Regions from separate parts of the Homo sapiens genome. Here region 1 is linked to region 2. Evidence: fine-mapped expression QTL. Tissue or cell type: caudate. Region 2 holds a variant in brackets; the other region holds the start of a gene. All regions are shown on one strand. Distances are between the middles of the regions.

Region 1 (8,338 bases), 44 kb after region 2:
GGGTCGAGCCCTGGCCTGTTTGATACACGGAGACGAAAGAACAGATTAGATTATTCACCCTGCTAGGGGGCCTGGCGCCCTTGCCCGCGCGCACCCCCTTCTCTGGCTACAGCTCGTCCGGGACGGCGCCTGGGTGGCTCCCCGCGGCTGGGCAGTCCCACCTCCTCGCCCACCTACGGCCGCGGGGAGAAGGGTGTCCCCCCACCACCACAACTTCTCCCTCCGAAAAGCCTGAGCTCAAGCAACCAAGCTGGCCGGGGCAGCGATGGGGCGTGGGCACCCACCTCCTCTTGCGCCTTGAGACTCTCCTGCTCGTTGGCAATTCAGTGTTCTCGCTGCAAGCGGCTGCTACGCAAGGGCGCTGCTGCGGTCAGTGGCTGGACTGTGACTGCGGACGGCGGTGACTGCGTTGGCCCCCTACCCATCCCAGGTGCTCAATTTATAGTCCAGGAAAGGTGTCGCCGGCGCTCAGGGCCACCCCTGGTGTCTCCTCCTCCCGCCTCCCCCGGCAGCACCGAGATAAAAGGCCCAGGCCGGGATGACCGCGAGTAACACTCGCCCGGCCCTTTCTACAGCGGGGGCGGGGCGCGCCGGGCCAGCTCCGCCTCTCGCCTGATACCCGGGCTGAGGGAGGGCGCCGGGGCAGGCCAGGGCAGGGCAGGGCAGAGCAGAGGAGGAGGGATTGGAGCAGCTGGACCCCGCCAGCACCAAGCCCTGGGCAGGCCAGATGAGGAGGGCCGGGCACAGCGAGGGTCAAAAAGGCGTCGGCGTCCGGACCGACTGGAGGGTGGGGCTGGCATGTGGGGGCTGGGCGGGCCTTGCGCGCGCTCCCCGCGTGGGATGACCAGAATGCACGTGCCTTGGTTGCAGAGTGAGCCCCTCAGCCCCGAATCTGGAGTGGCCGCGGCCGGGAAACAGGAACCCGGGTTTATTATTAGCCGTCGGGGAAGAGGGGCCGGCAGCAGGTACAACTCCATCCTGGGACTCTTACGTAATAAAGGGTGACCGGGCATGCTGGGTGCACGTGGACGCGCGGTGCTCCCGCAGTGGCCCTGGCCTTGGTCAGCTATGGGGGGAGGGGAGCGTCAGAGGCTTTTGCCTCCCTCCTGGCGGGGTGGGATCTTTCCCAATCTTTCCTTTAACAGTGGTTGCCGGGGATGAAGAGGGGCACACTATCAGATCTGCTGATTCTTTGAAGAGATCTGCAAGTGGCAATGGGGAGAAGTCCATTTTTGTCCAAGTCGGCTACACAGTGATGCTGGAGAGCCTGGGCCATGTGGCCTTTTGGCTGCCAAGAGGCCAGGAGAGGGTGACAGTAGTTAGGTCTAGTCTTGGGTGTCTTTCACCATTTAACAGAGAAATGGGGAGGTGTCTAATTATTTTTGAGGGTGCTTGTGTGAAGTGTTCCTTTCAAAAGATAGTTCTTAAAGCACTGGGTCATTTAATAGGGCCTAAGCTATGTACCGAATCGCTGGATTTAACTTTTAAGAGCCTTGCACCTTGAATTTCACTTTGAGACTTCCAAACCACAGCCTATTTAATTTTTCCCATCTCATGTCCCTTGCCATATTCCTCATCCACCAGTCCTCTCTGGCAGTCCTACAATTATGTTCAATAAGATTCAAGCTTCTCATTTTAAATCCCTTTTCTCGGCCTGAAACGGTGGCTCACGCCTGTAATCCCAGCACTTTGGGAGGCCGAGGCGGGCGGATCACAAAGTCAGGGGTTCCAGACTAGCCTGGCCAACATGGTGAAACCCGGTCTCTACTAAAAATACAAAAATTAGCCGGGCGTGGTGGCCAGCGCCTGTAATCCCAGCTACTCGGGAGGATGAAGCAGGAGAATTGCTTGAACCCAGGAGGCGGAGTTGCAGTGAGCCGAGATCGTGCCACTGCACTCCAGCCTGGGCGACAGAGCAAGACTCTGTCTCAAATAAAAAAAAAAAAGATCCCTTTTCTCTAAAACTTAACAGAGGTCTCTGTCCCTAGTACAGTTTTTTCCCACGGGACAAAAAATGCCTAAGGAAGGGAGAACATAATAAAGGGGTTTCTTTCTCTCCCTCTTTCTTTCACATTAAGACCTACACTTAAATATTTTCCATAGAAAACCATCTTCCTAATTGTCTTTTGAATGAAATTCTGACTTGGTGCCACAAGGACTAATCTGTTGACAAAAAACAAACAAAACAAAACAAAGTCAGTGACCCTTGGAGACAGACCTAAGTCTGAGGACCCACTACCCCAAAACGTATTAGCTCTACATCACAGCCCATGTTTTCTTACTTGCAAAACTGGGATAGACCTATCAGGGTTTTGAAGGAAGATCAATGGAAAGAAAAATACAGGGAGGCAGGAAGCATTATATAACTTTGAAGCATTAAAATAATTTCACCTTCCTTCTCTGCACACATAGAAACTTTTCTAGCCTCAGTTTCTTTATCAAAAAAATGGAGCTTGTTCCATGGGCCGTGCCAAGGACTTTGATTAAGTTTAAATATGATAATGTAAATAAAAATCACTATGTAAATTGTAAAGTACAAAGATTAATTGTACTTGATACAGGACCTCATCATAGTGAGAGGTGTTTATGTGAAGAGTCAGAAACCTTAAAAGTGTGGAAATTGCCTATGATGAGCCACAGATCCTTCCACCCAACCCCCAGTGCTTAAGCAGGAAAATAATATAAAATATGTCCAATGAGATTGAAAGAGCACTGCAAGAAGAAAACTCGAGAAAAACAGATATACAGTTTCTAGTAGCTGATCTTCTCATAAATTAAAGCGTACTTTGTCCCCCTTCCTGGACCCATTTGGTATTTTAAGTACGTATGCACCCGGATGAAAACTCGGTATTCAGACTTAACTTACTAAATGCCAAAATCTTGCCTCTTTTTCTCTTCTTCCCAGTTCCAACAGTGTGATAACACACGGAAAACGGAAATCCAAGGGATCTAGCAAAAGGATTCCACCCAGCAAAAACGCCAGCTTGGGAGAGGGCCCCTACCTAACTCCTTCCTTCTGGCCTCCACCCCTCCCCTGATACGTTTCCTTCCGTCTAGTCTCGAGATAACCCTTCATCCCCCAGTTTCTTGACTCTGGCCGCTGTTCTTGAACATTTCTTAAACACTTTCAGAGAAAGATGGCTCATGCACCTGCCTGCAAAACTTCCCAAACCGGGCCTCCCAGCTCCCCCAGACCCCGCAACAACTCACACCCGCCGGGGAAACTCCAGAAGGAAAAGGTCCGCCGGCCAGAGCTCTGGGCCCTTGGAATCACCCCACCACCGCCCCTCTGGCTTCAGCCAATCAGAAGCCGTCAGAAAATATTATGCAAATGAATCCTGATGCTCCAGCCAGTCAGAAGCCGCGGAGCCCTCCCCCACGCAGCGTCCTCTTTCACCCCAGCCCCGCCAAGCTGGCTGCCGCGTCCCTGGCAACCGGCGCGCAGCCAGTTCTCCACTACGCTTGGCTGTAAAAAAATTAAAATGGTTGCCTGGGGTCACATGGGAGGGGAGCGGGCTGGCCCAGGCCTAAGGAAGGTTGGAAACCTCACTGATTGCCCCAGGCACCTTCCCTGTCCCGATCTGGAACAGGCTGGAGGTGCTGAGCCACCTGCCCGGAATTCAGTTTGCCTCCAGAAAACAGAAGTCATCCGTTGAACAAATAACTTTCGAGTCCTTGTAGCACGCCAACAGCCTCAAAGCAAGAGGTCTTTGGTCTCTGCTTTCTATCCTATATGCTAAATTTCCGGTAAAAGCCTTGTCTGAGGTACCCATCCCCACTTCTTGGTTCACAGTTGCAATTCTGGAATTCTGGATCTCTTTTTTTTTGTTTTGTTTTTTTTTGAGACGGAGTCTCGCACTGTCGCCAGGCTGGAGTGCAGTGGAGCAATCTCGGCTCACTTCAACCTCTGCCTCCCGGGTTCAAGTGATTCTCCTGCCTCAGCCTCTCCAGTAGCTTGGACTACAGGCGCGCACCACCACGCCCAGCTAATTTTTATATTTTTAGTAGAGACGGGGTTTCACCATGTTGGCCAGGATGGTCTCGATCTCTTGACCTCTTGATCCGCCCGCCTCGGCCTCCCAAAGTGCTGGGATTACAGGCGTAAGCCACCAGCGCCCTGCCGGAACTCTTAAATTCTGGTTCTTAATTCCCACTCTTTTAATTAAGCAACCTGGAAAGCATGCTTTGCTGGCTCATCTCCCCAAAAATGTCCACAAATTATCCTTGTACTGTGTCCCTTGGATAGTTTTTTTTTGGGGGGGGGGAATGACATTTTAAAAGTGACCAGAAATTCCTGAACAAAGTAGTCAGCAAGAGTAAACTGGTGCAAGAAAGTCAGACTGGATAAAGAAGAGATCTGGCCTAGAACTGGAAGAAAGATGATATTTTAAGGCAAGAAGCCAGCCCAACCCAAGATAGCAGAGATCCTGGATTATTTTGAGACAGACTTAGAAGGATCCATTTCATGAAAAATGTCCTAGAAATATGACAGTCAGACTCTCGTGTTAAAGGCCATGTAGTCCAACCATCCACTTGTGCTGAAATCGCTCACAACATCCCCACCAAGTGGTCGCCCTTGCCTACATTCTTCTATTTTCCGTTCTCCAGTGTTCTTCTATCTTTTGGAGCTCTACAGAAGGCCATGAAGCACACCATCAGATGTTTGAAGGTAGATATGGTCTCCTTAAGTCTACTGTTCTTCAAGTCAGTTATCCCCAGTTCCTGTAGCCATTCTTCATGTTCTCTTTTGAGTCGCTCATCCATCCTAGTCACTAACTTTAGAAGTAGCTCTGGTTTGCTTTTGAGTGTGGCCCCTCTCATTCCAAGTACCATCTTTTCTAGGACAAAATGGAGTGGCACAGCCACTTATATTATTGTGAATGGTAATTTTTCTAGGTCATATTTATTGAGCACAAGTGCTTGGAAATTAGACTTGTTAACTCAAAAGACATGTTAACTCATTTTAACTTCACAACCACCCTGAGAAGAAAGCAAGGATCAAAGAGTTTAAGGGCCAAACTGTCAGAACTGGGATTTGACCCAGTTTTCTAATGCCAAATCCAATGTTCTTTCTACTACTCAATAGATAGCTACTGCTTATAATGCTGCCTAACATTTAATGGACTTATTTTAACAGCTACATCTATATGCTGCCATCTATATAACAAAATTTTGTGTACCCTATACTTGAGTAGTGGGGATTTTTTGGACCAAAGTACAGAACTTTATATTATCCTACTTAAACTTTATCTCATTGGATTTGGCCCATTAGTTCAGCCTGTTTTATTATTTTGGGTCCTGATTCTGTGCTGTAATGCACTTGGATCTTACCCATATATTTGATAACTATTCTATATATTTATCCAAGTTATTGATAATAGGTACCAGGCACCACTGGGCAAGAGGCAAATTGCTGTAGAACATCTGGAGAGCTCCTTCAGTTTGATATCCGTCCATTAATTGGCACTTTTTGGCATAAGTTGTTCCAGCCAGCTATGAATCATGTTAATTGTACAGTCATCCAGCCTATATTTTTCTTCTTGACCACAGGATATTATGAGAGACCTTGCTAAGTGCCTTGCTGAAGTCCCAAGCTAATAGCCAGTTTTCTTCCTGTGGAGTCAAGAAGAAGGGCATTTTTGTCATATACCACAAAGAAACCACCATCACATGATACAAAAATGCAGAAATAGCATCATAATAATCTGAGTTAAGATGGGGAAGGGAGTGTATCTTATTGTAATTGTCCTTACAGGAAAAACCGTCATGAAGGTTTAGTTGAGAGAAGGTAGACAGAAAAATGCCAAAACCTAAGAACAGTGAGTAGTGAATCTGCTGGCTTCAGATCCACTTTCAGGTTTTGGAATGTCTGAATATGTCGTAGTTAGCATTTTGTCACAATCTCATTTTTTAAAGCGTCTTTAGCCTTGCGTTTGGAAGAAGTAGAGCACAGGGAAAGTTGAGAATACTAAAGAATACCTTTTGTTATGTTCTCATCATTTCTACATCTTTAAGAACTCTGAACCGTATACAGAACTGTACATTCAATTTCAATATGGTAGATGAGAAAAGGGCAAGACACATCATAGCTTTTCTTACCACATAGAAACTTCTCAAGTTGATTTTTCCTAGATCCTTAGGATTCCAGGACTTTCTTGTACCATCAGCATAGAAGGAAGAATGAGAATGTTCTTTCTTCACTCTATCCTGTTAAAATGTGTCAGCTTGGTTAGTTTAAATTCTGAAATTAGATTCAAAGTTTACAAATTATAACACCAAATTAGGGAGAAAACACATAATTATCAATATTTCATATGTTCAAGTCCTAATTACAAATCCACATATATACATATACATATGGGTTGTAGCTTCATTTTGTTGAAGCTACAGTGTCATAAATACATTATCCAATGGACGGGTTCAACAGTTACACGCCCAAGTCTTCCATAATTTACTCTTCCAACCTTAATAATAAAAAAACTAGACCTAGACAAGGTACAATGAAGTCAAGGCGAATTCACCTACATCATATTAGACAGTCTGGACAGAGTTAGTACACAAAAGATGTAAATCTAGAAGCAAATACAACCTACAAGTCCTTCCAGCTATAGAAGACCTTGATAAGAATAGAAAAATAATAAACAATTAGGAAGATTTGAAAAAGGATATTGCAGAGCAAAAGAAACAAAATTTGAACCAAACACATCACTAGAGAGTCAATAAATGTAATTCCAAACAAGGAACAAAACAGGCATGCCAGAAAATTCAGTTACTGGCATAGGGCAAAAGGTTCAGGTAATCCCAATGAAAAGACACAAAAGAGTGAAAGAAAATGGAGAGGAAATGTTGGATAGAGAAGACAAAGACAACATAATATAGGCCAGGCGCAGTGGCTCACACCTGTAATCCCAGCACTTTGGGAGGCTGAGGTGGGTAGATCACTTGAGGTCAGGAGTTTGAGACCAGCCTGGCCAACATAGTGAAACCCCATCTCTACTAAAAATACAAAAAAATTTAGCTGGGCATGGTTGTGCATGCCTGTAATCCCAGCTACTTGGGAGGCTGAGGCAGGAGAATCACTTGAACCCAGGGGGCGGAAGTTGCAGTGAGCCGAGATCATGCCACTGCACTCCAGCCTGGGCAACAGAGTGAGACCCCGTCTCAAAACACACACACACATACACACACACACACACACACACACACACACACACACACACACAATATAAGCTTAACTGATGTTTCCAAAGAGACCTCAACATGTGAAATAGAAGAAATTCAGTTGTAACATAGAAAATTTTCCTTGACAAGATGCATTCATCTGCAGATTTAATAAGCATACTATATACCAGATAAAATTATGCAGAACAGTTGAAAAACAAGCTAGTTGTATTTTTCAACTTCAAAGAAGAAGAAAAAAAGCCTTCAAGTGTCCAAGCAGGAAAAGAAGTCACCAAAAAGATGGTGGTCTCAGGGGAGGAGAGAATCCAACCAGCTTTACAAAAACATTCCACTACAGGAGACAGTGGAGCTGGAAGAAAGAATGTATGATTCAAAAGTATTATATTACTCAAGCAAAAAACAATAAGCAGACATTCTCAAACATGAACTCAGGATTTTTCTTGAGAAACTTACTGGTAGAAGCCTGCCAACAACAAAAAAAATTAATTTAAATGAGTAATCCAGGAATGGAGAAACCCTGATGAAGAGATTCATAGTGAGTTTGAATCAATTTAAATGCAGAAGTAAGGTAAAACAGTGTGGATACTGGTTGCAGAATATAACGTAAATATTTTAAACCCTGAAGATGAAAAAATAATGCAAGCAACAAAACTGGAAGATGGGGGAATGAAAAATAGCAGAGCTAACCAACTTTCATTGCAGCAGGTCAATCAATGATGCCTAAAACCAAATTGTGCCATTTAAAAACTAAAGACACAAACATCTTAAAACTTTACAAAATATTTTTTCTCAATTTAAAGAGATCTTTTAGGAACTAATACATTCCATAGCAAAGAGTCTGTTTTCTAAAGTTCAGTATTTCTTTCAGTGTAATTTCAAGTAAAATTAATTTTAACATTTCATTTAAAGTAGTAGGTATGATAATGTTCTTTTTCTTCATCTGGGTGCAAGGCGCTAGTTACACAGGTGTGCTCATCTTGTGAAAAATTGTTGAGCTGACACTTATGTTTGAACTTTTTTGCATATATCTTATACTTAAATAAATTTTTTGAAATTCCATTCACATAAAATTCTAGGGGGTGTGAAGAGAGGGGGTGAGAGAGTCAACAGTCTGAGGCAGTGACCTGGTTTGGAATTAAATGCTCTCAGTAATTTT
Region 2 (8,338 bases):
GAAGTGCCATTTTCGTCACATCACTTCAAGGGTACACACCATCAACATGACTGACCACTGTTGATGCTGACCCTTGATCACCTGGCTGAGATAGCATTTATCAGGTTTCCCCACTGTAAAGTTACTCTTCCCCCAGCTCTTCTATATTGTATGCTTGAAAGAAAGTCCCTGTAGCCAACACATCAGGAGTGGGAAGTTATATCCCATCCCTTGAAGGCAGAGAACCTACATAAATTATTTGGAATTTATCTGCACAGGAGACTTGTGTCTTTCTCTCCCATTTATTTATGTATTCAAGTACTTATTTATATCAGTATGACTCGTGGATATTTATTTTATACTTTTGGTTTTATTTATTTATTTATTTTCTCTTTTTTCTCTTTTTTTTTTATATCATACTTTTGGTTTTAAATCGATATTACTTCATGTTGTTGCTCAAATTTTTCCAGCTTTAGCCACTGGGAGCTTTTTCAGTAAGCCCCTGTGTCCCTTTGACATATTCTCATCAATAGATTTTTTTTTTCTAGCATTTTCTTACTTTTGGCACTCCAGTCAGTTGAACATTGAGGACCACTGTGCTGGCCATTGCTAGATATATGTATTTATGAAAAGTCTGCCATCCTTTGTCTATTTGGTGGTTATGCAATGGAGGGTGCAGCCTTGTTATCAGTGAGGGTTGCATAAGGAATTGTAGATTTGGCCGACTGAAGTTTTTGGCCTTGATTGAGTCTTTAGGGTTCTTTAATGAAATCCATATTAATCCACTTATGGTGATACTAATCCAAACAGCTGAAATTAGTAAAATGTATCTGCTAGCTCCTGCCGCTGGCAAGTGACAAAATAAGAGTCAGGTACAGCTGCAGTCAGGCAAGAGAAAGAAGAAACATCAGGGTTATGTCAAGGAGATTTTCAAAGAAATGGTGCAGAGCAAAATCCACAGACACTTGAGCAAGAGAGAGCTCTTTCTGTGAGGCCTTGGCTCACTTAATGCCTGCAGCTTTGACAAAGAACAACCAAAGCACACTCCACCTCCACCCACCCAGCTGCTTTTATTTTATATTTTTCTAAGTGCTTTTCTTAAAGATGTTTAGAGTTAGGGTCAGACAAAAAGAGGGGATAGGAATAAGGGAGGAAAATGCTTAAAGATCAGGAAGTCCCTTTATACTGTAGGACTGCATGTGAGAATCATTTGAGCCCCTTCAGACTCTCTTCAAGACAACACATGAAAAAGAAAATCTTCTTTTCACCATACCAGCTACCGAATTTGGCTTTTGTGTATTTCTAGGTTAATGTGCAACCAGGACCTTTGGAAACCTGATAAAGCAGTATAATAAGCAGCGAATGCAATCCAGAGAGCTTGAACGTCTGTAGATGTTGCTTGATTGATATAAAACAATAGTTTTTCTCCCCCTACAATCTAGACTTCACTAGAAGCCCCATTTTTAATAGAGTCACTCTCTGGTTATTTTATCGCTGTGATTACTAATATCACATGCCCTGCCTGTGTTGCCTGTCTCTTTCCTATTCATCTTCAGATACAGTCCCTCATCGAATCATGTGTCCTTTGTTTCTAATGTAAGACTATGGTCATCATACCATTGTATCAGGTCCCAGATCAGCACTTTCCACCTCCCTTCACAATGGTGCATCCCTGCCCTTGAATAACCTGCACTCAAACCAGGCTCAATGATGCCCAAATGCTTCCATTGTCCTTAGGCCTATGCTGCACCTGATCCCTATGCTTGGGCCAAGAACATCTCCTTTCCCCCATTCATCCCTGTTAACCAGGGTTTTCTTCCTTACTTCAACCAAAAAGGGGGGAAATCTACTACCCTCATCCAATTAAGGAAACAACTCACATCCTACTCACCACAAAGTCCTCCTTTCTTGATCTAAAGGTGACACCATGTTTTGTCCGTGTCCGATATTCTCTAGTCATCTCTGCCTCCAACCATATCTTGCCTACCTTGTCCCCAAAACCCACCACAGATGAGCTATGCTAGACCTCAAAGGTCAGTCCAGTTTCCAAGATTAGATGGGGAGCCAGCAAACAAAAAGTACAATAGATGTCCTCAAGATCAAAGATACAAAAAAAGTGAATGAAGCTCCTTCATCTCACCTTCCTCTGCTCCATACAGATGCTCTCTAGAAGTTTGGTGATCATGTGGTTGTGTGTGCATGCACAACTGGCACAGTCCACAGATTACAATTACTATTTAGAGAGGTTCACAGCCCCAGCCTCCATCCTGTAACTCAGCACAATCTGCACCCTCTCACTTGTTACTGTATCATTGGACTTACTAAAGATTTCCGTGCAAAAGATCTGGCCAAAGCTTTCCACAATAGGTCATACAGGAAATTTTTAAAAATACATTTCCTATCCTTCATTAACATATTGTGGGCTTTGGCTGCAGTCTTTCATGTTTACGTACTGAATTGTCTTTCATCTGGTTCCTATTGCACTTTTAATTTCATTTTTTTTTTGCTGCAGCACTGCCACATCATTACATAGCATTTCTGCATGAGTTTCTTGAGGGACAAGCCTAGGCCTCACCTGTCTTAAATCCTCAGTATTTAGCACAGGTCTTCTACAGAGCATTTATGCAAATGCTTGCCAAATTGCTGCTAAATGTTTTCACCACAGCACAGTGGCTGGTAAATTGTAAGTCCTCATAAAGAGGAAATTGTACCTATTTTATTTTCTGCACAGAACCTAGCACATGCAATGAAGTATTTAACAAGTTCTTTTGAAAATTGATGCTGTAACTTGTCTCAACTTTCCCTACCTGTCTATATTTCCTATGTGTTTCTCTTTGTTAGTCATACACATTTGCAAAAAGGTAAGGAAACCAGAAAGGCAGGGATATTTTGCCTGCTATCTCTTAAAGCCAAATAGGAACAAATCAGTATCTGTGACATCACTGTTATCTCCTTTTGAGATGAACATCAAGGACTACGGTTTTAGATGATAAGTAAATGACACTAAGACCAGAAAAAACTTAATAGATGACTGAGCCCATTTCACCAGCTCCCTCAGGCCACCTGCCAGTGCGAGAAAAGAACATGCAGTAACCCTATCAGCCCGCTTTACAATTAGAATGAATTCATGAGAAACAAAAGATCTTGTTTTCATGGGAAAATATTCTTTGTGATATCCAACAAAGGGAGAATAATTTTGAAAGCATGTGACTTGGGGG[C/T]CCATCCTGCAGTTTTTGCACAGACAAAACTCTCATTGACTCTATCAATAGAATTGTTGCTACATAAAAAGTCTTCGGCAAAATTTCCATGATGCTTCAGAGCGCATTTTAAGTGCATCAGCCCCAGCATCCCACGCCCTCCCCATTTTAATAAAGCTGGAGAAGGTTTCCCTTCGATTGCCCTATTGTGCAGCAGGAGACAAGCACAGCACAGGATTAGAAGCCAGTGGACACCCCTCACCCCTACCCTTGCATATATCATCATACCAAAATCCATGGCAATATAGAGAAGTTCAAATTTCAACTGAATTTCTGAGCTTGAATTTTCCATTTCAAATTGCTCTTGCCAGGTAGACAGAAAGCAGATTTCTTGCAGGCTTCAATAAATACCATCTCCAAGTAAAATCCACATTTTTCAAATAGATAACAGTATAATGATTGGTATTGCTATTCCAGCTATGGCTGAATAGCAAGCAGTCCATTCCTTTTTATGTGGTATGCTCCTTAAGAGCCTCAAAAGATGAAATTGGACCTTCAGTGCTGCTGGAATGAAGGACAATGGGCCCAATCTCTACTTTTGAATTCTCTTAGCAAATGTACTGCATAAAATAGAATGCAATGCTAGGAAAGACTTTACTTCTAAAAAAAAATAGCAGGCAATATCTGTTCTAATAGGTGATTCATTCTCTCCCATACCAGTGATGTTGTTAATTCAATTGATACAATTTTAAGTTGGTGCTATATTCTTAAACTACAAAAAATTTTTTACTTTAATTCATGAGTTTTGCCCTAAAAAAGCTAATACTTACAGTATCACAAATAAACATAAGAGAAAAATTTGGGAGTCTGTGGCCTCTGCCTTGAAACTTTTAAGAAACTGAAAGACCCTTACCAGCCTGAGATGATATAGGCCAGTGGTTAGCCTCTCTGGGAAATGAAACCAAATTATGCGACCAGAAAAAATTAAGATATCATAAAACCTAAAGCCTTAGGTCTTCATAAATACTCCATGATATTTCTCTCTCTCTCTCTCTCTCTCTCTCTCACACACACACACACACACACACACACACACACACCCTTATAGGGACTTTTTTAGCCTTTAAATGTTTACAAAATATATACTTTGCTCCATAACATCTGGATTTTAATTGCACACTTATTCTGAAGTTACTTCACATCTATGTATCTTGTCTTCACCAGAAGAGAAGGAACCTAAGGCAGGAACTATGTTTTCAATCTCACTTTTATTCTTTCACAAATAGTAATATTAATCAGAGTAATGACTGACATGTATTGAGTGCTTAATATATATCAGATGCTCTTCCAAGCGTTCTACATTATTATCTCATTTAATGCTCACTAAAACCCCATTGGGAAGGTACAAATCCATTCTACAAAAGAAAAAAAATGATGCAAATAGCAGGTTTTTAGCAAATAATTGTTGACTGATCTAAATAAATGGAGCCCAATAGGAAGTTCCTAAAACTATTAGCAAAGAAGCTGTGGCCAGTGACATTTCCTTAATGATTCTGTATTATGCTTACCCTTAGTCAACAGGTGTAACAGAGACAGCTATTAGCTTCCCAATAACCATTCCCTTCTTCCTCATTGGAAACGAAGCCCTGATTTTCCCCGCAGAATTCCTTGCAGCTAGATATGACCTTATGGCCAAATTCTCACCAGTGAAATTTATAAAAAAGTGTTGTCTGGTATTTCTGGGAAGAACTTTAAAATGAAGGAGGCAGGTCCATCTTCTCCTTCCTCTTTCCTGCTGTTCAGAACACATATGTAATGCTAATATTCAGCGGCTGTTTTGGACCATGAGGTGACCTTAGGAATTGAAGTCACATACAGCTGAACAAGATAAAGGAGTGTTGGTGCCTGACATGGTGAAGTCACCATACCACTTCTGGCTACCTACATCCAAACTTCTTTTACTTAAAAACAGAGAACTAGGATTCTAGCTTGTTTAAGCTACTGTTATGTTTTCTTTTCTATTATATGGAGCCAAACCTACATCAAACTAACAGTTGGCATATACACAATAACAAAAATGTTTCTTTGATACATATAATGAAAGGTTATGCTCATATTCAAAGGGGAGATCAAAATGTTCTTTTAAAAAGCAAAGTCTTTGAGTTTACTCAAGATGAAAATTTTCTGATTATGAGAGTAATACACTTCTATTTGGAAAACTTAAAAATTTTGGAAAGAAATAAGAAAAAATTACACATCTCTAATTCTACCAGTCAGAACAGAATTGAATTAATTAATTTCAATTAATCCCTGAAAATTAATATATAAATCATCAAATCTTGTGATGGAAAGAGACCCTAAAAGTCATATTGTCTGACATTTTACTAAAGCCAGCATCCTTTTGACAGCACTTCTCCCTGATGTCTATCCAGTCTCTCCTTGAATAGTTCCAATGATAAAGAGCTCAAAGATTTATGAAATGGTTTAGTCCATAGTTGGAGTCAATCTGTCTTAAGTTCTATCCCACATTAATGAAAATTGGCCTCCTTGATATCTGAAGCAGCCAAAAAATAAATTTATTGCTTCTCAAACATCATGTTCCATTAAACATTTGAAGGCAGACATAAAAGCTATATTTTCCATAGTCAGTCACAAACTATGTGCTAAGCATTGTAGCAGGAATGGAAATATAGGCCATGACTGAAAATAATCCAAGTGATATATAGTGATGGCAAACTATGTGAAGACAGGAGTAGATATGTTCCAAAGACCTTTTTTTTAATTGATGACAGAATCGGTGTCAAACTAAATATGGAGGGTCAAAAGAGCCAAGAAACAAGGAATATGATGATGTCTTTAATGAACAGAGAATACTCAAACAGCAGCAGAAGCACATTTGTAAGTGAGTAGTAGGGGTGGAGAGTCAGGGGAAGAGGTTACAAAGAGGTTAAATTTTGAAAATAAACCTTTGAGGTGCATATGGGACCCCCAAATAGGGATGTACGATAGAGTCAAAAACATATGTCTGGAGTATAAAGGGATGTTAACTCTTATATTGTCCTCTTAATCCAGCTATTAGAAGTAGTAAAGGATAGGGTGCTGTGCTTCTGAATGGTAAAATGTCCCAAGAATACAGGAATATGTATCGCCCACTCTAGACACTGCCATCCTCCCTTGAGAGGGAGAGGTTCATGAAAGAGACACAAACACACACACAAAAATAATGAAACAGGAAAAATGAAACAAATCCTTATTGATTTCTGAATTTAGATCCCAAGCTTCCAAAAAGAGATATTGTAATATTTGGGCTGGGCCACGTGTAGCATAACCTTTTTCCTAGGCTACTTAGCGTAAATGCCTTCAGCCCAAAGCAGGCTGTGAGTGAGGCCTGTGAATGTTTTTACCTGCCCCCAAATTTTAGATCTAACCATACTCCAGTCCCACGTCAAGAAAAAAGAAAAGTTAGTTTGTTGGATATACTCCAGGAGAGTAAGCCCTGAATTGGCTTATCATTTCTGGCATATGGATGGCAGATAAAGAAGAGAGAGGAAGAGAGTCTCTAATAGAAAGTAGGCCCTGACCTTTTCCACTTCAGTAGTATTTCCAAGAACAGCAAAATAGTCACACCCAAGTGCTGACCTGTTAATACACAGTGACTGTGTCCACTGGCAAACATAGCATAATCATGTCCCAGATTTGAATCCAAAAAAATACTCCTCCTCGGATATAGATTGAAGGGAGAAGGAAAAACAGGCTCTTCTTCCTAGAGTAACTTATAGCCAAGGGAATCATAGCTTTTGGATAGCTTTGTAGACTTACTGGTTTGTATTAAAGTTGGAACCAATTAAATCCCCTAGGTCATTTTAATAAGAAGTCCTGAGATCTCCTTCCAACTTACACTCAGGTGATTAAATCATGAACCCTTAATGAGAAGTTCGCACTTATCTCTGTTAGGTTTAATTTTGCTGCTTTTGTTTCCTAACTCCAATTTATGACATTATCTTTGAATATTTATTTTGTTCTCTGACTTATTTTCCAACACTCCCAGTCTAACAATCTCTTTCAGCTTTAGTTCATTTCTAAATTTGATTCATGAGTCTTTGGGGTCTTCATTCAAAGAGTTGAAGAAAGTAAAAAAAGAAAAGGCCAAAGTTAGAGGTCTGGAACCCACTACCAAAAACCTCATCCTAAGCTGACAAGAATCTAATTTTTTAAAAATGTTCAAGTAGCCATGAAACTTCACAATAGTAGAATTATTAGGATGTTACTTTTCTAAGTTGTCCACAAAGACATCATGACTAACAAATAGTGGTTTAAATCATGCTATTCCACTGGCCATTCCATTATCCTGTCAGTCTCAGGACTCTGTTTTTAAAAAGGAAATGAAAGTAGTTCACTTTTCAATTATACACAAATACAATACCACAGAGACAAGCTAATGAAAATACTCCTCACAGCCATTGTCTCCAAGAATCCACCTTTTCATGTGTATATGTGACAGATTATATCCCTAATCTGTTTGCATCAAGCTTGGAACAAAGAAATTTTATAACTAGTAGCAATATTTTGTTAGGTACATTTGCCACACAGAAGCTTTTTTTTAAAAGGCAGAGCAATTAGCAATTTTATCAGTTTGTTCATGTATTTGCATTTTGTATATATTTGCATTTCATATTTAATTTGGTGCCCCATAACTGTTATAAAATTAACTAGACTCAACAGACACTTTTACTTACTAACACTGAGTGATGTACCCTTAAATTAATAATTAGATCTGAGATCTAATTATTAAATAGATAAATAAATAGAAGTACAATCAACAGGAAAATTGCTCTTCCATGCAACTGATATTGAATGCAATTTCCTTTAGTACAGCATACATAGAGGTAAGCCTATTGAGACACATATATCAAAATATATAATATTCTATTGTCAAAATGTTAAAACATTTGTTAGATCACTTCAGAGGATAATAATTTTTAATAAAATCTATAACATTTCTGCAAGTATCTTTAGATTTTTTAAAACAAGAAACTTTGGTTGCGTTATGTTTACAAGTGAGTCTTAGTGCCTGAGTCTCTGCTATGAGATTTTAGTGACTAATTTTAACATATTTCTTGGAGAGCAACATTAGAGCAATTCATAGAAAAGCTTAGAACCAC

Direction of the effects. Positions count from the first base shown, and alleles are read on the strand shown. Sizes are in standard deviations (SD) of each study's normalised expression.
With allele C in place of T in region 2, the expression in caudate of the gene that starts at base 3,239 in region 1 is higher (moderate effect, 0.56 SD a copy in GTEx).

What was found. PIP is the estimated chance that this variant, and not a neighbour inherited with it, causes the effect.
Region 1: MID1IP1 starts here. The variant in region 2 is fine-mapped to the expression of MID1IP1 in caudate (GTEx, PIP above 0.99). The same link has a PIP of 0.9 or more in hypothalamus.

Annotation. Positions count from the first base shown.
Region 1 is chrX:38,796,360-38,804,697 of GRCh38, reverse strand. MID1IP1 (MID1 interacting protein 1) reads right to left here and starts at 3,239. Exons shown (of 3, transcript NM_021242.6): 1 at 3,211-3,239; 2 at 285-2,163; 3 at 1-15. It overlaps MID1IP1-AS1 (MID1IP1 antisense RNA 1), which reads left to right and starts at 815. Exons shown (of 2, transcript NR_046706.1): 1 at 815-965; 2 at 2,906-3,450. RefSeq lists a silencer at 483-702 and enhancers at 505-1,346, 1,347-2,188, 2,522-3,029, 3,139-3,218, 3,248-3,542.
Region 2 is chrX:38,840,372-38,848,709 of GRCh38, reverse strand. No RefSeq gene overlaps it. Among named protein-coding and RNA genes, the nearest start is that of MID1IP1-AS1, 41 kb to the right of the region's middle. The variant C/T (reference allele first, on the strand shown) is at 3,198.